Homo sapiens: one gene and its partners. The protein of the gene in region 2 interacts with the protein of the main gene of each other region in a biochemical or structural test. Each region holds a gene or a part of one and is shown on either strand. Other genes may lie near its edges. The genes, in order: CHM, RAB7A, VPS39 and PLEKHM1.

The links.
Region 1: the proteins of RAB7A (region 2) and CHM are reported together in a solved structure, tested with the Homo sapiens proteins (2 studies listed by BioGRID, with this or other methods).
Region 3: the proteins of RAB7A (region 2) and VPS39 form a complex in vitro, tested with the Homo sapiens proteins (one study listed by BioGRID).
Region 4: the proteins of RAB7A (region 2) and PLEKHM1 form a complex in vitro, tested with the Homo sapiens proteins (one study listed by BioGRID).

Annotation. Positions count from the first base shown.
Region 1 is NC_000023.11:85,862,536-85,869,562, reverse strand, and holds part of CHM (rab proteins geranylgeranyltransferase component A 1), read left to right. Parts: intron 1-4,741; coding exon 4,742-4,933; 3' UTR 4,934-7,027. UniProt on the Homo sapiens protein: Substrate-binding subunit of the Rab geranylgeranyltransferase (GGTase) complex.
Region 2 is NC_000003.12:128,806,156-128,813,182, forward strand, and holds part of RAB7A (ras-related protein Rab-7a), read left to right. Parts: intron 1-216; coding exon 217-435; intron 436-1,387; coding exon 1,388-1,516; intron 1,517-7,027.
Region 3 is NC_000015.10:42,198,293-42,205,319, forward strand, and holds part of VPS39 (vam6/Vps39-like protein), read right to left. Parts: intron 1,670-7,027; coding exon 1,604-1,669; intron 1,375-1,603; exon of another isoform or gene 1,278-1,374; intron 1-1,277. UniProt on the Homo sapiens protein: Regulator of TGF-beta/activin signaling, inhibiting SMAD3- and activating SMAD2-dependent transcription.
Region 4 is NC_000017.11:45,452,707-45,459,733, forward strand, and holds part of PLEKHM1 (pleckstrin homology domain-containing family M member 1), read right to left. Parts: intron 5,734-7,027; coding exon 5,463-5,733; intron 2,175-5,462; exon of another isoform or gene 2,125-2,174; coding exon of another isoform or gene 2,109-2,124; intron 1,567-2,108; coding exon 649-1,566; coding exon of another isoform or gene 584-648; exon of another isoform or gene 228-583; intron 1-227. UniProt on the Homo sapiens protein: Acts as a multivalent adapter protein that regulates Rab7-dependent and HOPS complex-dependent fusion events in the endolysosomal system and couples autophagic and the endocytic trafficking pathways.

The DNA of each region.
Region 1 (7,027 bases), on a different chromosome or scaffold from region 2:
AGTTTCATAAGCAGGTAGAACACAAGAAAGAGTGGTGTGACAACCTGCAACTGGTGCTAATCTTAGGAGGCAGGTGGTGCATGACAAGATATATGGAAGTATGTGGTGTGGGATCCAGCCACAGAGACTGGAGTTTAGGGTAAAAGCTATTCTATGGGGAGGAGGCAAAAGGGAGACAAGGTGTCAAACACAGAGGAACTAGCATAGAAGAAGTAAAAGAATTAGTAGTAATAATAATTATTATATTTATACTTAATATTTGTATTAAATGTTACTGACATTCTATTTTATGCCAAGGCACTAAGGATCCAGAGTTGACTAAAAGTATTTGTCATCCTGGAGGAATCACTGTCAGGTAAAGGAGAAAAGCATGTAAACAAATGACAGTGTAGTGTGGCGTATGTACTAATATATCCAAAGTCTAGAAATAACAGAAAGGAGAAATGAGCCCAATCTAGGAGTCAGAGAACCTTACGGAGAGGGGTATAACAGAAGAGTAGCAATTCTCCATCTAAATCAAAGACAGTAGAATTGAAACATTCTGGATGTGAAGAATAACATTGGTACCAGTCCAGGATGTAAAAGATAAATATCATGGTGTATTGTTTCATACAAATAAACAGGTATTAGTAAATCAAGAAGTCTGAGAGATGGAGGCTAGATGAAATGGTATATGATAAGATCAGAGAAGGTAGGCCTGAAGGGTTTTATTTTCTATAGTAGGAATCTTGGATTTTATCCTATTGGTGATGGGGAGTCATTGAAGAATTTTAAGCCAAAAATGGAATAAACAGAATTTTATTTTCCATTGACCCATCTGAGGATGGCATGGAGATGGATTATATGGGGGAACTCTAGAGGCAAGGAGACCAGTCCAATTCTGAGGCTATTGTAGTTGTCTAGTTGAAAGATGGTGCATGTCTGGGCTATGTCAGTGGGGAAGGAACAGATGAAGTTAAGAGATAGAAGATAAAATTGATAGAATTTGATGATTGTTTGCATGCCAAAGATAAAAGGGAGGGAGAACTTTTACAGATAGTAAAAACAGAGATGTAAGACAAAAAGACCATTAGGGGAACGGAAGTATGAGGTAATGGCTTTGTCTGATCTAGGTCCTGCTTCTACAGGGGTTGCGTGTCTCTAGCAAAGGAGTATGGTGAGTCTCCGGGATGGAGAGCAAAGACAGGCATCTGTAATGTTTAATTTCCAAATAGCCATAATAAAAAATGCAGTTAGCTATAGTTACCATGCTGTACATTAGATCCCCAGAACTTATAGCTGAAAGTTCATACCCTTAAACCAACAGCTCTACACTCCCCAGCCCCTGGCAACCACCCTCAACTTTTTTAGATTCTACATATAAGTGAGATCATGTGATATTTGTCTTTCTGTGCTTGGCTTATTTCACTTAGCATAATGTCCTCCAGGTTCATTTATCTTGTCATAAATGACAGGATTCTTCAATTCAAATTTGACAAGAGAGCAGATTTTAAGTATTCTTACTACAAACACACACACACACACACACACACACACACACACAGTGGTAACTATTAGTGGTGATGGACGTGTTAACTTAATTGTGGTAATCATTACACAGTGTATATCAAGTGACCTTGTACACCTTAAATATATATACTTTTTGTCAATTAAGTATTTAAAAACTTAAATTGTCTATAGTAATTGGCATGTCCAAGAACATACCCTTGAAGGTTTTTTATTCTGTTACCCTGTCATACTAATAAGTTCAGCTTAAATCTTGACATTTTTACTTATGTTATTATTAGTAATAATGAAAATAGCTACCATATATGTCGGCTTAATCTCTGATATTTTATAGATAAGGAAGCCAAAGCTCGGAAATTGAGAAAGCATTCCCCAAATCACATAACTGCTAAATCGTAGAGCCAGTATTTTTACTGAGGCTATCTTTTCAAAACCCATGAGCTTAAACAAGTGCTATAGTCCTTAAAGTCCAGGGAATGGAAATTCTATCAAAAAGCAAATAGTTGAACAAACAGTGAAGAGTTTTCTTCATTTGAACAGTGACTTGTTAAAATTACTATATGCTAAATTAGACTATACCAGTATCACATGTGGGCTTGTATTAGTCTGTCCTCACACTGCTATAAAGATACCACCTGAGACTGTAATTTATAAACAAAAGAGGTTTAATTGACTGACAGTTCCTCATAGCTGGGGAGGCCTAAGGAAATGTAAAATCAGGGTGGAAGGCAAAGGGGAAGCAAGGCATGTCTTACATGGCGGCAGGAGAGCAAAGAAAGCAAAGAGGGAACTGCCAAACACTTTTAAACCATCAGATCTTGTGAGAAGTCACTATCACGAGGACAGCATGGGGAAAAGTGCCCCCATAATCCATTCATCTCCCACCAGTCCCTCCCTAATACTTGTGGATTACAATTGCAAATGAGATTTGGGTAGGGACATAGAGCCAAACCATATCATTCTGCCCCGACCCTTCCCAAATCTCATGTCCTTTTCACATTTCAAAACCAATCATCCCTTCCCAACAGCCCTCCAAAGTCTTAAAACTCATTCCAGCATTAACTCAAAAGTCCACGTCCAAAGTCTCATCTGAGACAAGTCAAGTCCCTTCTGCCTATGAACCTGTAAAATCAAAAGCAAGTTAGTTACTTCCAAGATACGATGGGGTATAGGCATTGGGTAAATGTCCCCATTCCAAATGGGAGAAATTGGACAAAACAAAGGGGCCATAGGCCCCATGCAAGTCCAAAACCCAGCCGGGCAGTCATTAAATCTTAAAGCTCCAAAATCTCCTTTGACTCCATGTCTCACATCCAGGCCATGCTGATACAAGGGCTAGGCTCCCACAGCCTTGGGCAGTTCCAACCCTGTGGCTCTGCAGGGGATAGGCACTGTGCCTGCTTTCATGGGCTGGCATTGAGTGCCTGTGACTTTTCCAGGTGCATGGTGCAGGCTGTCAGTGGAGCTACCATTCTGGGGTCTAGAGGACAGTGGCCCTCTTCTTACAGCTCCACTAAACAGTTCCCTAGTGGTGACTCTTTGTGGGGGCTCCAAGCCCACATTTCCCTTCAGCACTGCCCTAGCAGAGGTTCTCCATGAGGGCTCTACCCCTGCAGCAGACTTCTGCCTGGCCATCTAGGCGTTTCCTAACATCCTCTGAAATCTATGCAGAAGCTCCCAAACCTCACCTCTTGTCTTTTGTGCACCCTCAGGCCCAACATCACGTGGAAGCTGGCAACGCTCGGGGCTTGCACCCTCTGAAGCAACAGCCCAAGCTGTACCTTTATTCCTTTTAGCCATGGCTGGAGCTGGAGCAGCTGGGATGTAGGGTACCATGTTCCAGGGCTGCACAGAGCAGTGGGGCCCACCCAGCCCACTAAACCATTTTTCCTCCTAGGGAAGATCTCTGACATGCCCTGGAGACATTTTCCCCATTGTCTTGTCTATTGACATTTGGCTCATCATTGCTCATGCAAATTGCTATAGCCAGCTTGAATTCCTCCCCAGAAAATGGTTTTTTCTTTTCTCCCACATGGTCAGACTGCAAATTTTCCAAACCTTTATGCTCTGCTTCCCTTTTAAACATAAGTTCCAATGTGAAGGCATCTCTTTGTGAACACACATGACTGAGTGCTTTCAGAATCAGCTGGGTCACCTCTTGAATGCTTTGCTGCTTAGAAATTTTTTCTGCCACATACCCTAAATCATCTTTCTCAAGTTCAAAGTTTCACAGATCTCTAGGGCAGGGAGAAAATGCTACTAGTCTCTTTGCTAAAGCATAGCAAGAGTCACCTTTGCTCCAGTTCCCAATAAGTTCCTCATCTCCATCTGAGGCCACCTCAGCCTGGACATCATTGTTCATATCACTATCAGCATTTTGGCCAAAACCATTCAACAAGTCTCTAGAAAGTTCCAAATTTTCCCACATTTACCTCTCTTCTTCTGAGCCCTCCAAACTGTTCTAACCTCTGCCTGTTACCCAATTCCATAGTCACTTCCACATTTTCAGGTTATCTTTTAGCAGTACCCCACTCCTGGTACCAATTCTCAATGCTAGTGCCTCTTACACTGCCATAAAGATACTACCTGAGACTAGGTAATTTGTAAACAAAAAAGGTTTAACTCACAAGGCCACATGGCTGGGGAGGCCTCAGGAAAGTTACAATCATAGCAGAGGGTGAAGGGGAAGCAAGGCACATCTCACATGGTGGCAGGAGAAAGAGAAAAGGGGGAACTGCTAAATACTTTTAAACCATCAGATATTCTGAGAACTCACTATCACAAGAACAACATGGGAACAGCCGCCCCCATAATCTAGTCACCCCCTAACACGTGGGGATAACAATTTGAGATGAGATTTGGGTGAGGACTCAGAACCAAACCATATCAAGGCTCTATAAGAAATCATATAAACAATATTAAGGAAATTGTATTTCTATTGATATATAGAATGAATGTATTTCAGTTCTCAACAATCTGAACACTTGATAATGAACCTGATGAGGTACTGCCATCCTTGAAGAGTGGACCTCAATACATGTATAGAATTAAAGGGAGAAGTCATAGAATTCTGAAAACAGACTTACGGAAGTTCATGTATTCTGATTAAGTACTGTAGCCTGTTTAAGCAAATTTTTAAGGATAAAACACTTATTTTTTTTTAGTTAATGCCAGAAATGCACACACATTTTAAACCGATTTCCAAAAACGATTTTATCTTTTCTTCCTTGGCCAGGCTGAAACACTTTTCCAGGAAATCTGCCCCAATGAAGATTTCTGTCCCCCTCCACCAAATCCTGAAGACATTATCCTTGATGGAGACAGTTTACAGCCAGAGGCTTCAGAATCCAGTGCCATACCAGAGGCTAACTCGGAGACTTTCAAGGAAAGCACAAACCTTGGAAACCTAGAGGAGTCCTCTGAATAATGGATATACACCAAACTGGATACCCAACTTTGGAAATTCTGACTGGTCTCAGAGTCTACTTGATAGAAGGACTGTTTGAGAAATGTTAGAAAGCAGCAGCAATTATAAGGCAAAATAGGTAATAGAAATCCAAAAGGGGATTTTCCTTATAGAGGACATTCCAAGAACACACAACACTTATAAAGCACATTGACTTGCTCATTTTAAATACCAAACTTGTGTGACTAGCAGATGAAAATTATAAATCAATTGATTCTCAGGAATGTAACTGTGGATATGAAAGTGATCCTATGCATTGTTAATAATTCCATGGTCTTAGGACAATTTTGCTTACCACTTTGGATCTTTGTTTGAAAGCCACATTTTCAGAACCAGCTCATGTATTTTCTTTGGTTATTTGAATTTTATTTTCTTTATGGACAAGAGCATCATAACATAATGATAAAAACATATAGAAAAACTAAAGTATCATGATCTAGATAGAAGCCTGTATTTGGAATACAGGTTTGTTTTGCTTTCTATGTTGAGAAGCATTGAAAATGCTAATATAAAGGTGTTTAGACATTTTTACGAATAAGTCAGTAGTGTTTTTTAGTATCAGTAGTGATATTTGTTTGTAAATTATTTACATATTGGGAAAGGTCAATAATGAAGAAATGAAAGAATGGAAGGAAAGGTGTGGATAGGCTCATTGGTATTTGAATATTCTGTCTGTCAAGTAACTAGAGTATTAGGCTAATTGTCTACAGACCTAATTTAATCCTGGCTGTCCTACTGATGATATTTGGTAAATTGTTTAACTTCTGAGCCTACGTTTCTCCATATATAAAGTGGAAATAGTATTACTATGCCTACTATATGAGAATGGTTATGAAGACAATGCAATGCCATGTTTAGAATCGGTTTGCCAGAAGAAAATTGTTTTAGAATTTTCCCATTGACTTGATGAATCTCAAAAGTCTCACGCAGGAAATAATTGCTTGCTGTCAGTCAACTTCCAAACAAAATAGATCACAGTGTTTTTATTGCATTAAGCTTTTTAAATGAAAATTTCTTTTTTAAAGTAGTATTTTATAGTCTTACAGACCAGTAAAAATAGTAACAAGTAGAATTGTGGTTTTGAAATATTACTAAGGAAAACACTCTATAAATTGTTTTATTCCTTTTCTGGTAGGTAAACCTGCAACCACCAAGGACTCCAAATTGTGTATGACAGTTGGTAAGCCCTAATATACACTACATAAAAACGTTAGGGCTGCCTGTAATCCCAGCACTTTGGGAAGCTGAGGTGGGTAGATCACTTGAGGTCAGGAGTTCGAGACCAGCCTGGCCAACATGGCGAAACCCTGTCTCTACTAAAAATACAAAATTTTAGCTGGGTGTTATGGTGGGCACCTGTAATCCCAGCTACTTTGAAGATGAGGTAGCAGACTCACTTGAACCAGGGAGGCGGAGGTTGCAGTGAGCCAAGATTTTGCCACTGCACTCCAGCCTGGGTGACAGAGCAAGACTCTGTCTCACAAAAAAAAAAAAAGGGGGCTGTACATAGGCAGCAAACTAAGCTGCAGTGATGTTGCCTATATTTAAATTTTCTCAAATGGCCAAGCTCTGATGGTCTACTTTATTTGAGCAATAGTTGAGACTTATAATTGCCTATAAATAAACAAACAAATGAACTATTTGTTTTTTTTTCTCACAACATCTGGCCTATATTGTCTGTCAGGAAGCCATGGCTCCAATGTAAAGTACATAGTTCTTACATACTTCAACTGCAGCTGGTCCCTGACCTCACCAGGTTTCAGAGATGTTCTTAAAGGAAGCCAGCTGTGGCAGGTCACAGATTCATGGGAAATGGAAAGAACCAAGGAATATAGCTCTTGCCTCACCTTTCTACCCACTGCAGATATAGTTCAAGCCAGAGTAATGGAAGAACTTAACTTACTAGCCTCTCAGGCTGCTCCTATCCCTACCTCCCAGTGTACAGCCCCTCCCCATCTCTTTAGTCCCCTTTCCCTCACTTCCCCTTTTATAATGTCACACAAATCAGGGACAGTAGGATCACATTATAACCTACTTTGTCATAGGGATTCGATT
Region 2 (7,027 bases):
TGTCACTCGCTTATAGACAGACACATACTTAATCACAATATTTGTGAGGATTGTTTCAGATACTCTGGTGCTGAAATTTGCTTCCTGAAGTCTGGTGTCATTTGTCTTTGTGGGTGGCCCCACAATCTAGCCTATTTCTTCTGGCACCCCTTGCATACATGCTCCTGGTGCTCTGCCTAGCATTCTCCCAAGGAATGAATGTTTTGTCTCTCACAGATATGGGACACAGCAGGACAGGAACGGTTCCAGTCTCTCGGTGTGGCCTTCTACAGAGGTGCAGACTGCTGCGTTCTGGTATTTGATGTGACTGCCCCCAACACATTCAAAACCCTAGATAGCTGGAGAGATGAGTTTCTCATCCAGGCCAGTCCCCGAGATCCTGAAAACTTCCCATTTGTTGTGTTGGGAAACAAGATTGACCTCGAAAACAGACAAGTAAGTACCAACGATGATAGATATTGTCACAGACACCTGCTCCCCAGGGGCCTTGTGAATTTGGAGGGTTCTCTGCTAAGCTCACATGGCTCTAGGAGGTGCTGGTGGGAGTCTTCATTACCATATGCCAGCCCTTCAGGCCAACTGCCTTTAAGGACCGGGACCCAGGTGACCTGGGTTAAGTCCCCATCCTGCCCCCAGCTGGCTGTGACTTTGGGCCATTGTCTTGGCTGTCTCAGCTTCACTTCCCTTTCTGCACTTTGAAGGAGGGAATTCGGTTTTGTCATTCTCAGTAGTGCCCTCCCAGTACCTCCAGGCCATGCCTGGATCTCCATGTGTGCAGAATATTGCTTTGGGCTTTGAGTAAAATTGCTGTACTGTAGTTTCAAATACCATTTCTGTTGGAAACATAGACTCTTTGATTAATTACAACTAGGTTTATTTCTGACCACAGATCTTTTCTTAAGTGACTTAGTCCTTATCTCTTGGCTGAAAATGGGCTAGGGGTTGGGGAAGGAATGAGAATGTGTGAGTGGCATAGGTGACATCACACTAGCAGTAATGGTGAAGGGACTATAAACCTTAAGACCAAGCTGCTGGGCATTTCCTGTCCTGGGATCTCTGAGGTCCCAGTAAACACTCTTCATTTCTTCCCGGACTGGCTTCTTACTCCATTCACAAATGGCTTTTAAGTATAACTGAGGGTCAGAAGGTATGAGCTGTAGACCGAGACAGGCTTTGAGCTCTCTAGCTGAATCCTAGCTATCCTGAGCATAGCTAGCAGGACAAGTTTGGACGGGTCTGCAGGTCTCCTCCAACACCCTCTTTCCCCATGTCTGTGTCCTCACCTGTACTACCTGTAGACGAGGGGCCATGACACTTCCTGGGGAGGATGGAGTCAGTGCTGGCTGCTTCTGTCATGAGCCTATGTGCACCCTGCTTCTTCTTTCAGGTGGCCACAAAGCGGGCACAGGCCTGGTGCTACAGCAAAAACAACATTCCCTACTTTGAGACCAGTGCCAAGGAGGCCATCAACGTGGAGCAGGCGTTCCAGACGATTGCACGGAATGCACTTAAGCAGGTGGGTCTCCCACAGCTGACCAGCCCACTCTGGTGATGCCTGACCACTGACCCAGTCCCTGCCTGGCCTCCTGCCCTTAATCTTCTTCCCTAACCCACTCTTTTCTGTATAGCCAGAATACCCTATGTGTTCATCTGGGAAGGTTATGACATGTTCTGCTTAAGCTTCCAGAAATCCCACTTTGGGGGGAATAATATAAAAGATGCAGAGGCTGTGAAGTCTGAGGCTGCCCTTCTTTTACTAGGCTTGTTCTTATTTTCTTTGCTGTGATTAGGAGATCAGGTCACTGGGAGACCCCGAACAGATTGCTGCTTCTATTTAAGGAGGAAATAAACTTGAATATGAATCCCAGCTCTGCTGCGTACCAATCGTTATATCTAGTTTGGGCTTAAAAAAAAATTATGGCCGGGCACTGTGGCTCATGCCTGTAATCCTAGCACTTTGGGAGGCCAAGGCGGGCTGATCACTTGAGGTCAGGAGTTCGAGACCAGCCTGGCCAACATGGTGAAACCCCCTCTCCACTAAAAAATACAAAAAAATTAGCCAGACCTGGTGGTGGTCGCCAGTAATCCCAGCTACTCGGGAGGCTGAGGCAGGAGAATTGCTTGAACCCAGGCGGCAGAGGTTGCAGTGAGCCAAGATCGTGCCACTGTACTCCATCCTGGGTGACAGAGTGGGACTCTGTCTAAAAAAAATTAAAAATTAAAATAAAAAAAATTATATCTGAACTTCTACCCCCTCACCTGAAAAATGGGAATACCTGCTTTTGCAGGGTGATTATGAAGATTAAATGAGACAGACTCTTCCAGCTCTCACATACTGACTGGTAACTTTTTTCCTTAGGAACAGTTAAGTAAACAACACAAAGAAGGAAGAAGATGTAGGAAAACTATTCAAGGAATATAATACCTAGAATTTCTTATTTACTGTTTCTGTGATTAGATACAACCACTCATGCGAGTTGAAAGTCTGTTTTGATGTACAGCTCTGTTAGGGGCAGTGGTGATTAAGGCAGGTCACGAGGCCTCATCAGACAGTGTCTGGGGGTGGTCAGAGGTGTGGCAGGTTTGGGAGGATGCATAGAACACTTGAAGCACATGGTGGCTGTGAAGGGCAAGGCAGATTCTGCTGACTCCAGGAAGCCGGCTGAATGAAGGTAATGGCTTTCAGCAGGACAAAGAGTTGTTTGTAATGGTTGCTCCAAGGACCAGGGAAATTCTGGCATGGGTGGGGTCTGCACTAAGTGTTCCAGAATGAAAGGGACAGATCTACTCAATGAGGAAATTGTTCCACCCAGAATGCCAGGAGAGCCCTCAAGTGGTAAGGAGCAGACCAAGATGCAGACTTGGCCACGCTTACCCCCAAATAATAATGTTTGTGTTTTTCTTAATGTTCATATAAGGGAATGGAAATCCAAATATGTGTAGGAAAGTGTTTCCCACCTGTTCCCTGTTGCCTGGCATCACTGTCTGAGTTTTTCTCTTCCATCACTACTGTCCCTGTTGTCTTTATGCTTTTATTTTTAGAGCTAGCCCTTAAGAAGTTAGATTGTTAAATCGGAGGGTGTATCTTATTGTAAGTCAGGGTGCCAGGTTGCTTTCCCCAAGGGGAATAACATTTCAGCAATGTGGGCTTGCTTTCTTCTACCTCCTTGCCAGCAAGCAATAGGTGTCACCTGTCACTGCTGACATTGCCGATCTTTGGGTGTGTAAATTGCCACCATCGTGACTACTGGTCCCTCTGAGTTCCCCTCCCTGGGGCTTAGCCATTTGGATTTTCTCTGCTGCACACAGCCGGCACACAGCACATGGTTGGGCCTCTCTCAGTTCTCATGAGCTGTTGGTGAATTGAAGTTAACTCTACTTGCATCTTAAGTGACTTTTCCAACTCTGTGGTCTTTTTAAGTCCTTTGAACATAGGGAAAAAGTAATTTTTTATTTGGTTATGTCATTTTAAGTTTCTATGTTTCCTGTGTCTACCTCAGATTTTTCTGTAATTCAGCTGGAATTTGTTTTGGCTTATGGCAGAAAAGAGAGACTTGCCTTTCCTCTCAAGAGAGCTCAGCCAGTTGTTTGAAATCATTCAGCTATGTTACACAAGCCGTTTCCCTCCCTGAATAGACCGTGGCCTGTGCTAAATGCTCGTATGTGCTGGGATCTGTTTCTGGTCTCTCCAGTCTGTTCTGGTGATGTCCATGCCATGTTCCCTTATCTGGACTGTGTTGATTTGACTGCCTGATGAGGCAAGTTTCCTCTTGCCACAGTCTTTTTTTTTTTTTTTTTTTTTTTTTTTTTTGAGACGGAGTCTTGCTCTGTTCCCCAGGCTGGAATGCAATGGCGTGATCTCGGCTCACTGCAACCTCCGCCTCCCAGGTTCAAGCGGTTCTCCTGCCTCAGCCTCCTGAGTAGCTGGGATTACAGGCATCCGCCACCATGCCCAGCTAATTTTGGTAATTTTTTAGTAAAGATAGGGTTTCACCATGTTGGCCAGGCTGGTCTGGAACTCACATTGTGAACCGCCCGCCTCAGCCTCCCAAAGTGCTGGGGTTACAGGCATGAGCCACCGCACCCGGCCTGCCACATTTCTTTTTTAATAATTTTGTTTCCACCATTTTCCTCTCTTACCTTCCACACCCCAAATAAAACTCTGTTGAGATTTTGATTGGAATTTTTTTCTTCAAGCCCACTGTTTTTTCCTCATTGATTGCAGTTTTGTTGTGGCTGTTGCATTAGTCTGCTCAGGCTGCGTTAACAAAACCCCACAGCCTGGGAGGGTCCAACAACAGACATTTTGTTTTCTCACAGTTCTGGAGGCTGGAAGTCCATGAGCAAGGTGCTGGCACATGTTTCTGGTGAGGGTGCTTTTCTGGGCTATCTTCTCACTGTGTCCCTCCCATGCCCTTTCTGCTGTGTGCACAGAGAGAGGACACATGAGCAAGGTGTCTCTGGTGTCACCTCTTCTTATAAGGACACGAATTCTCAGATCAGGTCCCCATCCTGCAACCTCATTTAACCTTCATTCCTTCCTTACTCCAAATACAGCCACCTGAAGGGTTAGTGCTTCAACACAGGAATTTTGGAGGAACACAAACATTCTGCCCAGCCGAGTGCGGTGGCTCATGCCTGTAATCCCAGCACTTCGGGAGGCTGAGGCGGGTGGATCACCTTAGGTCAGGAGTTCAAGACCAGCCTGGCCAACATTGTGAAACCCCATCTCTACTAAAAATACAAAAAATTAGCTGGCGTGGTGGTGGGCACCTGTAATCCCAGCTACTTAGGATGCTGAGGCAGGAGAATTGCTTGAACCTGGGAGGTGGAGGTTGCAGTGAGCCGAGATTGCACCATTGCACTCCAGCCTGGGCAACAAGAGCGAAACTCCATCTCAAAAAAAAAAACAAAACATTCCACCCATGATACTATTTTAGGTCTTGTTTCTGTTCCTTCAGTAAGATTGATTGATTCTTTTTTTTTTTAGAGACAGGGTCTTGCTCTGTCAGTCAGGCTGATACGCAGTGGTGCAATCATCACTCGCTATAACCTCCAACTTCTGGGCTCCAGCAGTCTTCCCACCATAGCCTCCTAAGTAGGTAGGACTACAGGCACACCCATGCTATAATTGATTTATAATATGATCCTTTGCCTTTCACAGTAAACATATTCCTAGGTACTGGTGGGAATATAAAATGTCACTATTTGTAATAGCCAAAAAGTAAGAACAACTCAAATGTCCATCAACTGGTAAGTGAATAAACAGGGCAGCTTATCCATGCATTCTAATATTATTCAGCTATAAGAAGGAATGAAGTAGTGACACATGCTGCCACATGGGTGCTAAGTGAAGGAAGCCAGTTGCAAAAAGACCATATGTTGTACGATTCCATTTCAGTGAAATGTCCAGCCCGGATGCAGTGGCTCATGCCTAAAATCACAGCACTTTGGGAGGCTGAGGCCGGAGGATCACTTGAAACCAGGAGTTTGAGACCATCTTGGGCAACATAGCAAGGCCTCATCTCTACTAAAAATTAAAAATTAGCTAGGTGTGGTGGCATGAGCTTATAGTTCCAGCTACTTGGGAGGCTGAGACTGGAGGATTGTGTGAGCCCAGGAGTTAGAGGCTGCAGTGAGCTGTGATCATGCCATTGCACTCCAGCCTGGGCGACAGAGCAAGACTCTGCCTCAAAAAAAAAAAAAGAAAGAAATCACAGTCCACTAGAAGAAATGGGGAAAATTAAAATAAATAAATAATGTTTAAAAATTAAGTGTCCAGAATAATAGGCAACTCTATTGAGACAGAAAGTAGATGAGTGGTTGCTGGGTCCAGGATGGTATAGAATGGGGGTGGGAAGGAACTACTAATGGGCATAGGGTTTTTTGGGGGGTGATGAGAGTATTTTAAACTTAATGTTGATGGCTGCCCAACTTTCTGAATATACTAAAAACCATTGAATTGTACACTTCATGGCATGTGAGTTAAAACCCAGCAAAGCTATTAGGAGTGCAATGGCACCATCTTGGCTCACTGCAACCTTGACCTCCCGGGTTCAAGCAATTCTCCTGCCTCAGCCTCCTGAGTAGCTGGGATTATAGGTGCTTGTCACCATGCCTGGCTAATTTCTGTATTTTTAGTAGAGACGGGGTTTCACCATGTTCGCCAGGCTGGTCTTGAACTCCTGACTTCAGGTGGTCGACCTGCTTCAGCCTCCCAAAGTGCTGGGATTACAGGCGTGAGCCACCATGCTCAGCCAAAGCTGTTATTTTTTTAAGTATGTATTCCTAGATGTTTTATACTTTTATAGTTATTGTGAATGGAATGATTTTTTTCCTAGATAACTTTTAATGAATAGAAACAGTTCCTGCTTTATCTCCAAATTCTAGAACAGTCACTGGCACACAAGTGCTCAGTGTTTAAGTGACATTGTTTTCCTGCACCCAAAAGTAGAATGCTGCTCCTCATTGGAAGCATGTTACTTTAGCAAAGTGCCACTAAAATGACCATAGTCCATGTGCTCTGATCACTTGTCACAGATGGTGATAAAATTCATTCACAGCTTCCTTTCTAGGCCTGCAGCATTTGGGAGACAAAACTCTGCTAAACCTTTGGAAGAAAAAAGAGACCAGAGGCCATTGGTCCCGAAAAGTGGATGGAAGATAGGGAGGTAGAAGGAATGTTACAGGCTGAGAGGGCAGCTCACACTCAGCTCCAGCCACTTCACCTCGTGCACACACTGGCTGAGGGTTGCCAGATGTTTGAGAAAAGCTAGAAATCCAGACCATTGTTAACCATTGGCAACTATAGGGAACATACAGAAAGCATCTGAACTGGATGTGGTAGAGCTCCCAGATCATGATCTGATTGAGAATGTCCATGAACTTCTGTCCTGATTGCTCAGTGCAGACTGCTGCTTCTTCTGGCAAGACTCCTCTCTTCACATTGACCTGGAGTTGTCACAAAATCTGTTTTTCTCTTGCTACTCCCCTGAGCATGGCACCTTCTGCCAGAGCGCTCCCTTAA
Region 3 (7,027 bases), on a different chromosome or scaffold from region 2:
TAATTTTAAAATTATAGACCAGGCAAATATCACAGAACGCAAATATTTTGGCTCCGAGAACTAAAAAAAGAAATTTTTTTTTGAGACAAAGTCTGTTGCTGAGGCTGGAGAGCAATGGTGTGATCATAGCTCACTGCAGCCTCAACCTCCTGGGCTCAAGCGATCCTCTCACCTCAGCCTCCAGAGCAGCTGGAATTATAAGCACGTGCCACCACATCCAGCTAATTTTTTGTAGACAGGGTGTTGCCATGTTGCCCAGGCTGGCCTCGAACTCCTGGCCTCAATCATTCCTCCTACTTCAGTCTCCCAAAGTGCTGGGATTATAGGCATGAGCCACTTCACAGGCCATGAGAATTAAAAATTTAAAACATTAAAACAAAGATCAACAATGTACTGCTCCAGGGCCTAACTGAGGCCTTTGCATGTTTTTGTAAATAAAGTTTTATTGGAACATAGCCATACCTATTCATTACATATTGCCTACAGCTGCTTTCATGTTACAAAGGCAGAGTTAAGTAGTAACAACACTGCAAAGCCTAAAATATTTATTCTTTGGACCTTTTCAGAACAAGTTTGCTGACCCTGATTTAGAGGACAGTTGAAAAACTTAGAAATGAAATAAATTATCTATTTTGTTCTCTGGTTTCTTTTCTTACCCTGCTGCAGAAACTGACCAGGATATCTTCTCTTTCCCGAGTGCACTAGTAAGGTGCTTTTTCCCCCAGTGTTACCCTTGCTCCAGGTTCCACAAGAGAGCTCTATTTATCTTAAGCTATCTCTTAAGCTATTTACCAGAGAAATATATATTATATTGAAGGGTATGAAATTAACTGCAGATTTCTGTAGAGTGGCTCCAGGGCATAATACCTAAACACATCTATTCTCCATAAAGAGAGCACAGAAACGAAAACAAGGAAGGGCAGTGAGGTACTTTCTGCCCCAATAAAAAACACTCTTTAACAGAATACATTTCAAATACTTTAGTTATTACTCTACATTACTGACAGTCACATTTGATTAGAACTTTAGTTTTCACAGTTTCTTCGAGCCTATTATTGCATCCACCCCAACAACTTTGTGGGGCAGAGAGTTTATAGAAAACTGATGTTGGAAAGAACTTGCTCACGGTCACGCAGCCAGGGGGAAGTGCACATGAAGGCAAACCCTGGTCCTCTCTTCTTGTTCTACCCCTCATAAGCCAACAAGATATTTTAAATCGATGTTGCCTAATTTTTTTTCCTACCACCACACCATATATACAGGAAGCTTATGCCCATTAGTAGTATTTCTTATTATTGGTAGTGAGTCTCAAAGAAAAGAGGAGGAAAACAACCACCTCCTCTTTTCTTAGAGACTCACTACCAGTAATAAGTAATTCAGTAATAAGTAAACCAGCAATTCATCCTCACCTCCCAAATGCAGGTAGGGCAATACAATTTGGAGGAGAAAAACCCTAGGCATTCTCAAGTCTTCTCCCCATTTTCCCACCGTGCTCCCTCTAACCTTCAATCTCTCTTTTAATGGTCCAGGAATAACTGATTTCACAGTTGTATACTAGCTGACTATTAAAACTTATTTTTTTGCATGAGCAATGTGCACTTACCAACGTCCTTCCGAATCCTATAGAGAAGAAGATGTCCTTGTTTGGTTCCCACAAGAAGCCATTCCTCTGGAAAAACAAAACAAAACAAAAACAAAAACAAAAAAAAACCAGCTTTGAGAAAGGTCAATCAGCTTGAGTATAACCCTATTTTTTTAGCTGGGGCTTGTAATCAGAAATCAATGTGTCAAGAAAATGAGTTGCTTTTGATAGGAGGTGTTTTGCAAAGCTAAGAAATGTTTATACTCATGTTTGAAAATCAACCATTTAAAAACACATTTATTGAATAATTACTAGGCTAGACATATCAGAGGATAAAAATGTCCTGGCTCAATTGTTTTAATGTTAAACTAATAAAAAAGATAGAAGGGCTTTGTATTTTTAAGATTAAATTATTATGATTTTTATTTTTTGTTATATATACTTTTATTAAGATATATATCTTCAGATATATATTTTTAAATTCTGCTAAAAAGAATATGATGAAAGTTTATAAAATCACAAAATGGAAGTACAAATGTGAAACCAGGTATCCAACCTCAGCAATAATAGCTAAGAGGCATCCTTTAAATGCTTTTACTTTCAGGAAAATAAATGACGTAACATAATAAGCTTACAGAATTCATTATCTCAAAAGATAGTCTAGTAGAAAATATTTAATAACAAGTGTTGATGAGAATATAAAGAAATTAGAATCCTCATACACTGCTGGCAGGAATGTAAAATGGGAGAGCCACTTTGGAAAAGTCTAGCAGCTCCTCAAAAGGCTAAACAGAGTTACCCTGGGACCCAGCAATTCCACTCCTGGTTACACACCCAACAGAAATGAAAACATATTCTACACAAAAACTTGTACACAAATGTTCACAGCAGTATTATCTGTAATAGCTAAAAGATGGAAACAAACCAAATGTCCACCAACTGATGAACGGATAAACAAAATGTGGCATGTCTATATAACGGAATATTAGCTAACAATGAAAAGAAAGGAAGTATGGATATATGCTACAACACAGATGAACCTAAAAACATGATGCTAACTGAAGGAAGCCAGACAAAAGGCCACGTGATTCCATTTATATGAAATGTCCAGAGTAGGCAAATCCACAGAGGTAGAAAGATTAGCGGTTGCCCAGGGCTGGTGGGCTTGGGGGAAAATAGAAAGTAAATACTAATGGGTACTGAGTTTCTTCTGAAAGTGATGAATATGTTCTAAAATTTATTGTGCTGATAGTTGCATAACTCTGTGAATGTACTAAAAACCATTTAATTGTACACTTTTTTTTAACTTTTATTTTTTTAAGATAGGGTTCTACTCTGTTGCCCAGGCTAGAGAGCAGTGGTGTGATCATGGCTCATTGCAGCCTCCACCTCCCTAGCTCAAGTGATCCTCCCACCTCAGCCTCCTGAGTGGCGAGAAATACAGGCATGCACCACCACGTTCAGCTATTTTTTAAAAAATGTTTATAGAGATGAGGGCTCACAATATTGCCCAATCTGGTCTCCAACTCTTGACCGCAAGCAATGCCCCTTCAGCTTCCCAAAGTGTTGGGATTACAGGGGTGAGCGACTGTGCCCAGCCAAATTGTACATTTTAAAAGATGGTCTAGGCTAGTGGTTCTTAAACTTTAGTGTATCACAATTATTTGAGAGTTTGTTAAAATACAGAATGCTAGGCTCTACCCCGGAGCATCTGATTTAGTAGGTTTAAAAGTAGGCCCAGGAATTTTCATTTCTAACAACTTCCCAGATGATGCTGATGCTGGTGGTTCAAGGACCACATTTTGGGAGGCACTGGTCTAGGTAAAAAGAGGCTCAGAAAGAGTTTAAATAATTACCCTGACAGACCCATATTACATCATTCAAGGAAGGTAAGCATGTACAGATACTTCCTTAGCTTTTTGATAACATAAAGGTCACTCATTCCTTTCATAAACTCTCTTGATTCTTGACCTCTGTAAAATAAAATCTTGGATAATGGTACAAATAGATAACTTTTATTGAGCATGTATTGTGTTCCAGGAAATGCTAAACGCATCTGTTATTTCACTAATCCTCACAACTATCCCTTGAAGTAAGTCCTTTTTTCAAATCCCCATTTTATAGATGAGGAAGTTGAGGCCTAGGGAATATATAACTTTTCCAGAGTCACACATGTGGCAAGCAGCAGAGTTGGGATCCCAACCCCAATTTGTCTTGATTCCCAACCACATGCTGTGATGTACTTACTAAGGCACCCATGTCAAAAAAAATGGGTGTCAGCCAAAGGTTGTCTGAATGGCAGTAGTTATATTTATAAAAACAGGTCAGCACCTACATTCCTTATCCAAAGGATCAATAGTATTTCTCCAGGATGATGTTCTTAGTCATCCAGAAAAACAGAGTGATTCTATTTTCTTTGATTTGGGGTCTTAAAGGAAAGGCAGGTCACACACAAAAAAAATGTTGAAATCAGAAATAACAGCAGCTCTAATGAAGGCTGGAGATTTATGCTGCAGCAGAACATGAAAAAATAAAAGAATTCATTTTGCAATATTTGTTTTGTAAAAGATACTATATTTAGAACTTTATAGATATCATGATATCAAGCAATTTAGCAATATTAAAGTTGATTTTTAGGCCACCCACTGATATTTCAGATATAAATAAAATGAAGTGGAAATTTTTTAAAAATCCACTCATAACATACATAAAAATCTACAACCAAAACAAAAGGCCAACATAATGTTCATCATCTTCCCCATCCTTCTCTCTCCACTCTGTCCCCCAAATCCCTGCCAGTTCCTGCTTTTCTTTATCTTTTTTAATAGCCTCAGCTTCCTCCCAAGTCGGCCAGGGTCTATCAATTCTACCTGTAATGGTACCTCATGACAGCCTCCTCCTATAGAGTCTCTCTGGGGACCCCTGTGACACCTTCAACTGGTCTCATTCACTCCATGCATTCTCTCGCATTTGCTGTCAGTTATCTTAGAGCAGATCTCTGATGCTGTCACACTGGGGCTTAAAAAATCCTGTGAAGCTACACTACCAAAATATGAAGTCAAATTCCTAAACATGACATTCAAGAGTCTATTTTCCATTTTTATTGAAATGTTTCTTGCCAATAGATTTTTTAATTTACTTTTTTTTTTTCTTGTGAACCCAAACTAAGACATGACAAAACATTTTAAAAAGTCAAATGTCTAGGGGCCGGGCACGGAGGCCGAAGTGGGCGAATCACTGGAGGTCAGGAGTTTGAGACTAGCCTGGCCAACATGGTGAAACCCCGTCTCTACTAAAAAATATAAAAATTAGGCCGAGTGTGGTTGGCTCATGCCTGTAATCCCAGCACTTTGGAAGGCCAAGGCGGGCAGATCACCTGAGGTCAGGAGTTCAAGACCAGTCTGGCCAACACAGTGGAAACCCATCTCTACTAAAAATACAAAAAAAATTAGCCAGGCATGGTGGTGTGTGTGCCTGTAATCCCAGCTACTCAGGAGACTGAGGCAAGAGAACTGCATGAACCCCGGAGGGAGAGGCTGCAGTGAGCTGAGATCGTACCACTGCACTCCAGCCTGGGTGACGGGGCAGGACTCTGTCTCAAAAAAAAAAAAAAAATTAGCCAGGTGTGCTGGTGAGCACCTGTAATCCCAGGTACTAGGGAGGCTGAGACAGGAGAACCACTTGAACACTGGCGGCGGAGGTTGCAGTGAGTGGAGATTGTGCGCCATTGCACTCCAGCCTGGGTGACAAGTGTGAAATTCTGCCTCCAAAAAAAAAATTAATTAAAAAAATAAAATGTCTATTCTACTGGTCATAAAAGGGAATCAATCCGATGGATTAAATTCTCTGTAAACTTTTAAATCAACCTGATTGATTACATGTGCCATTAGCCAGAGGACCTGTCCCATGTTGGGTCCTCCACTCTCTAGGACACGTTATTTAACAAAGCTGTGCATGCACAACACAGAGGATGACAAGCCTGCAGAGCACGCGCAGCATGGGATGGACAGTGCCTTCTGAGACTCAATACAGTAACACACAACAGAAAGTGAGACATACTAAGCAAACACAAAACGCACACATAAGCAAAGCAGTATCAGCCCTAAAAAACTCCTGACGGCCTAACCCTGAGCCACAAGGTTGGACTTAATTCCTCCTGAGAAGGAGGGCTAGGCCCTATTGCTCATAATTACCCTAATGGAGCTCCTTCCAACAGTGCAATGCAGTCCAACTTCATGTAATAAATTCCATTTCTGGCCCAATGCTGGCCACTGCAGGGACCACAAAGATAAGTAAGATAGTAGTCACTTCCCTTCGTTGGGTAACATGGCAAATAACAGTACTTCTCATCTGGGCATAAGCCCCCAATTAGCTGCATTAGAATCACCTGGACTTATTAAAAATGCACATTCCTGGGCCCTGCACATGGAGATTCAGATTCAATGGCTTTGAAGTGGTACCCTGAAATTTACATTTTAAAATTTAATCTTGTTGGCTGGGCAAAGTGGCTCACGCCTGTAATCCCAGCACTTTGGGAGGCCGAGGTGGGCGGATCACCTCAGGTCAGGCGTTTGAGACCAGCCTGGCCAACATGACGAAACCCCGTCTCTACTAAAACTACAAAAATAAGCCAGGTATGGTGGTGGGTGGCAGTAATCCTAACTACTCGGGAGGCTGAGGCACGACAGTGGCTTGTACCTGGGAGGCAGAGGTTGCAGTGAGCTGAGATTGCACCACTGCACTTCAGCCTGGGCGACAGAGCGAGACTCAGTCTCAAAAAATAATAATGAAATAAAATAAAATAAAATAAAATTAAATTAAATTTTATTTGTTTTTATGAAACATTCATGTAGTTCCAAAGCTAAAACGACGAAAAGTCTAGTTTCTATCATTGTCCATTTTATCCTCTCTTCTCCCTTCTGCTATGGGCATCATTTTAGTAATTTTTGACTTATCTTTCCATTGTTTCTCTGGAAAATATAGGTATGTATGTATATATAGACATACAGATACTCATATATACATGTGAAGTCTGCATTTTTTACAGGCTTTGAATATACATTCAAGTTTGAGAACCAGGCTCTAGAAGCAGACATGATTTACAGGACATGTGACCTTGGAAAAATTTCTTAAATTTTCTAAGCCTTAGGTCTTTCTTCTGTAAAATGGAGTCTTATTTTATAAAAGCCTAATACAGATTAGCATTTAACAACTGCAAGCTATTACTATTCATATTAACATTATTCATTAAATATATATTTAATGAATACCCATTGAGTCAGGAAATGTTTTAGGTACTGCAGATATAGCAATGCAGAAAACAAAGATACTGCCCTGAGGGAACTTATATTCTAATGTGGAGTGAGAGAGGCAATAATAATTAAATATATAAAATAACAGTAGATGGTGACCCATGATTAGAAGATAAGGCTAAGAAAACAGCAC
Region 4 (7,027 bases), on a different chromosome or scaffold from region 2:
GTAGGAAAAAACCAAGTTGTGGAACAATATATCCAGCATTCAACACAGCAGCCAAGAGCCCCGTGTGTCCCCTTTAAATGCAAATGAATTTAAATAGAAAATTCAGTTGCTTAACCACACTAGCCACACTTTAAGCACCTGGTAGCACTACATGGCTCGCAGCTATGGCACTGGACACACAGATCTAGGACATTTTCATCATCACAGAAAGTTCTATTGGACAGCACTGAATAGCACGAGCCCATTTTTATAATTAAAAAAAAGGGTGTACACTTATAAAAGCAGCAGAAATATTTGGAAGGAAACCATGCCCCTGCTCTGAAAGAACAGGACGGTAGAGCAAGAAGAAAATGAAGCAGGCTGGGACTCCCTGAGCAGCGCAGTGAGTAGCCAGCCTGCCGCCCATCAGTGGGAGGTGGCAGGAGAGGGACGGGTGAGCAGGGCCCACTGCCTATGAGCAGGGCACTGGCCCCAGCCGGGGCTGGGGAGGAGCAGAAGCTGTAGGGCAAGCCTGATCTGTGGCCTCATCCCTAGGGGAAGGATGGGGGCATTTGCGGGGAGGCAGAAGGGTGGGGAGCCTAAATCAGGAACCAGCAGGAGGTGGAGTGAGGCTGGCAGGCTGGGGGTGGCAGCAGAGCAAATCGGCACCTGCGCAGAAGCAGCCTTGGGAGTCAAGGCCTTTCTCCATGGGGATAGCCACCAGGTACTGCAGCAGGAAGCCATTCTCCCGGGTGGCAAATTTCAGCACCTCCTGACAGTTTTCATCCAGGCTCCCGCCCAGGGTCACCGCCTCCTCGGCTGTCTCCAAGTAGGATGCCAGGACTTTGCGGACCAGATCCCTCCACAGGGCGGCTTCCTCGGCGTTTCCGGCCTGCAGCTTCAGGACAGCCTTGGCCGTGATGATTTTGAAGAAGGATGGGCCCCCAAGGCTGGTGTCTGGCAGGATGTCCCGGATGGTCTCCACGCCGTGGCTGTCACTCAGCATCTTCTCATTGTTCCTGATGCGGAAACATTTCAGAGCCTCCAAGGACAGAGAAAATATATAGGGCATCCAGGTCCTGTCCATGTACAAGTACAGCAGGGACTCCTTGATGGCATCTGGCTCTGGAACCTGGGCGGACGACCAGTCAAACTGTGTGCCCTGGAGGGCCGCGGGCTCCGAGAGCAGGTCTGAGGGAGAGAGGCAGCCCTGGGGCGCCTCGGGGGGTTCCTCAGGCTGGTCTGGGTACTGCACGTTCACCCACTCATCCTCCTGCTGAGGCCGGACCTTCTGCAGGGCCTCCCGCACCCGGTCCAGCCAGTCCTCAGCTTCGTCCTGGGAGGAGGCGCGCAGGGCCAGCTTCTTGCCAGAGAAGACCAGCTCAAAGCGCCCATCACTATGGGCTGGCCCCACAGACTCACAGCGAAGCAGCGAGCAGTTCTCCACACAGGTGTGCTCCTCGTTGCTCAGGTAGAGGCGGAACTCCAGCGGGGAGAGCTCGCAGAAGAGCTCCTTCCAGATGCCCATTGCCCCCCGCCGCTCCACGGTGCCCAGCTTCATGAGACCCCGGAATGGGTTGGACAGTCCTGGAGGCAGAGGCAAAAAGGGGCACATTAGTTGGCGGGCCTGTCTCTGTCCTGCCCAAGGCAGCCTCTGCTGCCTGATGCCCTGCAGTGCATGTGGCCAGTGACTGTCCCCAGAACACAGGCCAGCCACGGGGCACTATCACATGGGACCCTGAAAGCTGGATGGGAACATCCCCATTCTCACCGTCCACTGCTGCTCTTGCGTCCTGTATTTCACTGAGAAAATAAGAGCACCCAAAAGATCCCCTCCACACGCCCTGTTCCCTACACCCACGCCTTCCCTCCTGCTGCCAGGGATGAACCAAGTGTGCTTCTTTCTGCGTGAGGCCAAACCCTCCATTTGTGCAGGAGGTCTCTCCCTTGGCCAACTACTCAAGGACAAGGAGCAGTCCTCTCCTCTGTCACTGCTTTCTTCCTTCTCTATGGGGTGACTCCCATCGGCACACATGCACGCTGTCATTTCTCCCATCTTTAGAAACACCTCTCGTCTCCATGCACTTCCCTAATGACCACCATATTTCTCAGGCCCCTTTACAGAAAACCTGTTTGAAGAGGCATCAAAACTGTTCATCTTGGCCGGAAGCGGTGGCTCATGCCTGTAATCCCAGCACTTCGGGAGGCTGAGGTGGGTGGATCACTTGAGGTCAGGAGTTTGAGACCAGCTTGGTGAACACGGTGAAACCCCGTCTCTACTAAAAATACAAAAATTAGCCAGGTGTGGTGAGCACCTGTAATCCCAGCTACTAGGGAGGCTGAGGCAGGAGAATGGCTTGAACCGGGAAGGCAGGGGATTGCAGTGAGCTGAGGTCACTCCACTGCACTTCAGCCTGGGTGACAGAGGAGTGAGACTCCGTCTCAACAAAACAAAAAACCTCTTGGTCTCTAGTTTCCCTGCTCCCATTCCTTCTCGAACCTGCTCCAAGTAGGCTTCTCTCCCCCCATTCTACTGACACTGTTTCTGAGATGGTCAATGCCCTCCTCGTTGCCAAACCCCAAGGCCACTCCTCAGCCCTCGCCCCCACCCTTCTATCTCTCTGGCTCGGTCCTCCCTGTGGCCTCTCACGTTAGAGTGCCCAGATGTCAGTCCTGGGTCCTTGTCTCCTCTCTGTAGATGCCACTTTCTCACCACTCTACCTGCTCTCAGGCTTTAGCTCCCAATTTTTATCGCCAGCCTGGACCTTGTTCTTGAAATCCACATTCATATATCCACCTGTGCCATACATGTCCACTAGGATCTCAGCTGACATGTCCAGGATGAATTCCTGCTGCCAGCCTGCTTCCTCCTGAATGGTCCTCATCTCACCAAATAGCAAAATTCATCCTTCCAGATGCCTGGGCTAAAAATCTTGGTGTTACCCCAGGTTTTCTTTCTTTCGCAGCCTACATCAGCAAATCCCATTGGCTCTGCCTTCCACACATCCGGAATCCCCGCCTCTCCCCAGCTGCACCCCACCCACTGTCATCTCTGGCCTGGCTTGTGATGACAACCTCCTAACTGGTCTTTCTCCCCTTCTCCCCTGTAGTCCCTCAGCGTAGGAGCCATGATGACCCATTTAAAGGGAAGTCAGAGCATGTCCCTCTGCCCCAAAACTCCACAGTGGCGGCCATCTCCCTTAGCTGAAGCCAAAGTGCTTCCAGTGGCCCACAGGCCTCGTCAGATTGACCTCATCGCTCACTGCCACGCCCCCATCTCCTCTCTCCTGCCACTCTGGTCTCCACTGTCCCTGGATGTGTCAAGCGCAGCCCCAGCGCAGGGTCTTTGCATTTGTTCTCCTTGCTTGAAACACGTACATTGCCTCATGACTCCTTCCCTCTCTCCCCTTGCATCTCCTCAAACATCCCCTTATTGGTGAGGGCTTTTCTGGCCATCCTATATGCAGTGGTCCACTCTCTACCTCTGTAGACAGGTAGAGATTTACTGTCCTCCATAGCACTTATGACCACCTGACCACACACTATGCTTACTTGTTAATTTTATTTCCCGTCTCCTCTACTAGAATCTAAATCCCATGAAGACAGGGACACTGCTTTGCTGCCTGCTATGTCTCCAGCACTTAGAACAGTGCCTGGCACATCACAGAGCCTCAATAATATTTGCTGAATGAATGAGCAGGTGAGTGCCTATGTATCACATGTTGCCCACAGCTCCCTGCTGCCTGGGGTGTGACAACAACCAGGGTGTCCAAAGGACACACAATTCTCTCTCCGCCAGCCTGGAATAGCCTTGGAGATTTCACACTATTCTATGGGGGTTCCCTGCCCCTCAAGAAACCTGATGGCCTAGACCTGAAGCACAGCTTCGCTGGCAGGTTAGAGACCACAGCCATCACACGGGCCAACAGACAAACCTAACAGAAGCCAGCCCGGAGACCGGGCTCTACCCACACAACCCATGCCAGGGCTACCCACAGCAAGGCCCCCTGAGCTGGGCAGGATTCTCTGCTGGGTCACTGCAGACAGAAAATGAGGAGAGAAAGAGACCAATTCTAGAGCGTACTTTTTTTGTTTGTTTTGAAGAGGAAACCCATCATGAAGGTTACTGAAAAATTTGGTTATGGTTATTTAAGGCTTTCTGGAATTTCAGTGTGTGGAGATCAAGCTGACCTTGCTGTAAAAAGCACTGGGGAGGTCGGGCATAGTGGCTCACACCTGTAATCCCAGCACTTTTGGAGGCCAAGGTGGGTGGATCACATGAGGCCAAGAGTTCAGACCAGTGTGGCCAACATGGCAAAATCCTATGTCCACTGGAAATACAAGAATCACCTGGGTGTGGCAGTGCATGTCTGTAATCCCAGCTCCTGGAGAGACTGAGGCACTTGAGCTGGGAGGCAAAGGCTGCAGTGAGCTGAGATTATACCACTGTACTCCAGCCTGGGTGACAGAGCAAGACTCTGCCTCAGAAAAAAAAAAAAAAAAAAAAAGAAGCACTGGAGGACATTAAACAAATAGCAGATCCTCCAGCCTGGCCAACATAGCAAAACACCATCTTTATTAAAAATGCAAAAATTGGCCAGGCGCAGTGGCTCATGCCTGTAATCCCAGCACTTTAGGAGGCCGAGGCGGGGTGGATCACCGGAGGTCGGGAGTTGGAGACCAGCCTAACCAATTTCGAGAAACCCCGTCTCTACTAATACAAAATGAGCCAGGCATGGTGGCTCATGCCTGTAATCCCAACTACTCGGGTGGCTAAAGCAGAAGAATTGCTTGAACACGGGAGGCGGAGGTTGTGGTGAGCTGAGATCACATGATTGCACTCCAGCCTGGGCAACAAAAGGGAAACTCCACCTCAAAAAAAAAAAAAAATTAGCCAGGTGTGGTGGCAGGTACCTGTAATCCCAGCTATTTGGGAGGCTGAGACAGGAGAATTGCTTGAACCCAGGAGGCTGAGGTTGCAGTGAGCAGAGATCATGCCACTGCACTCCAGCCTGGGCAACAAAGGGAGACTCCATCTCAAAACAAACAAACAAACAAAACAAATAGCAGATTTGATCAAGCCACCCAGAGCTGTTACATAAACCAACTACTGAGGGTAAACACGTTTGGAAGGACCATTTAAAACACCTGGGGCTTCATGGGGCCGGATGTGCTCTGAGCTACAGGTGGAATCAAGAGTTTTCTATAATCATAAATTGCATAGTTTTCAGGGAAAATATTTTCCTATTTGACTGGTGAAACAGTATTTTTGTCCTCTGTAGGCAGTTTTGAGACAATATACTACTTTTCCTGAAATGCTTCCCTGAATGAACATGATTATGATGGCATTCTGGAATGAGGTTTTATAACACTTGTGGGAACACACTACCCCTTTAGCAATGGAAAACAGAACTTCACAGCTGCCTTCTGAAAGGCCTGGTCCCTGCAGATGGGACCCACCCGGGACCCTCCTGGTAACCTACCCATCTGTCTCCGGTGTACCACCCGGAAGCTCTTATGCCCCTGGGATGGGGCTGCCTGGGCTTGCCTTCTTCCTGGGGAAGGTACACACGCTTGGTCTAACGCCCCCAGGGAGCAGTTTTTTCTTGGTTCTTGAGAAAAATGCCTGTGGAGACCAGGCCTTGACCCTGGAGTCCCCCTGTAAGAAGCTATTGGGTGGTCTGAAGCACTCTCCAGGGGTTGCTCCCGGGAAGGCCGGTAGAAGTCATCCTCTGAGATCCAGCTCTTGTTTTTCTGTTGGGAAAGAAGACAACAGTTGTTTGTTTTAAAGTTTTTTTGTTTTGAGACGGAGTCTCGCTCTGTTGCCCAGGCTGGAGTGCAATCGCGCAACCTCGGCTCACTGCAACCTCTGACTCCTGGGTTCAAGCGATTCTCCTGCCCCAGTCTCCTGAGTAGCTGGGATTACAGGCGCCCACCACCATGCCCAGCTAATTTTTGTATTTTTAGTAGAGGCGGGGTTTCACCATGTTGGCCAGGCTGGTCTAGAACTCCTGACTTCAGGTGAGCCACCCACCTCGGCCTCCCAAAGTGTTGGGATTACAGGTGTGAGTCACTGTGCCCAGCCTGAAGTTTTTTTTTTTTTTAAGTCTTTATCTAGATATGGCTCTTATATCATAAAATTAACCCACTTAAAGTATGTAATTCGGCCAGCCATGGTGGCTCACACCTGTAATCCCAGCACTTTGGGAGGCTGAGGTGAGAGGATCACCTGAGCCCAGGAGTTTGAGACCAACCTGGGCAACACAGTGAGAACCCATCTCTACAAAAAATAACTAGCTGGGTGTGATGGCACACACCTGTAGTCTCAGCTACTGAGGAGGCTGAAGCGGGAGAATCGCTTGAGCCAGGGAGGTCAAGGCTGCAGTGAGCCGTGATCACGCCACTGCCCTCCAGCCTGGTTGCAGCCTAGGCAACAGAATGAGACCCCATCTCTAAAAAAATAAATAAATAAAGTGTCCAATTCAAACATTTTGGCTTAGTCAGAGTTGGGCAATCGTCACCACCATCTAAGTTTAGCAAATTTTCCTCACCCAAAAAGGAAACCCCGTACCCATTAGCCGTCATCCCCATTTCCCCTGGCCACTCTCAGCTCTAGGCACCTACTTACCTACTTTCAGTCCCTACACACCTGCCTGTTCTGGACATCTCATATAGATGGAACCATACGACACGTGACCTTTTGTGCCTGCTTCTTTCTCTTAGTGGGAGGTTTTCCAGGTGCATCCATGTTATATAAGCATGTTTAAGTGTTCATTCCTTTTTATTGCCAAATAATATTCCATTGTCTCGATCCACCACATTTGGCTTATCCACTCCTCGGCTGATGGACATTTGGGTTGTTTCTACTTTTTGTCAATTATGAATAGTGCTGCTATGATCACTTATACACAAGTTTTTGTGTAGACATGTTTCATTGTCTTGGGTATATACTTAGGAGTAGACTTGCTGGGTCATGTGTAACTCTATGTTTCCCTTCTTGAGGAACTACCAAGCTGTTTTCCAAAGTGGCCGCACCATTTTATATTCC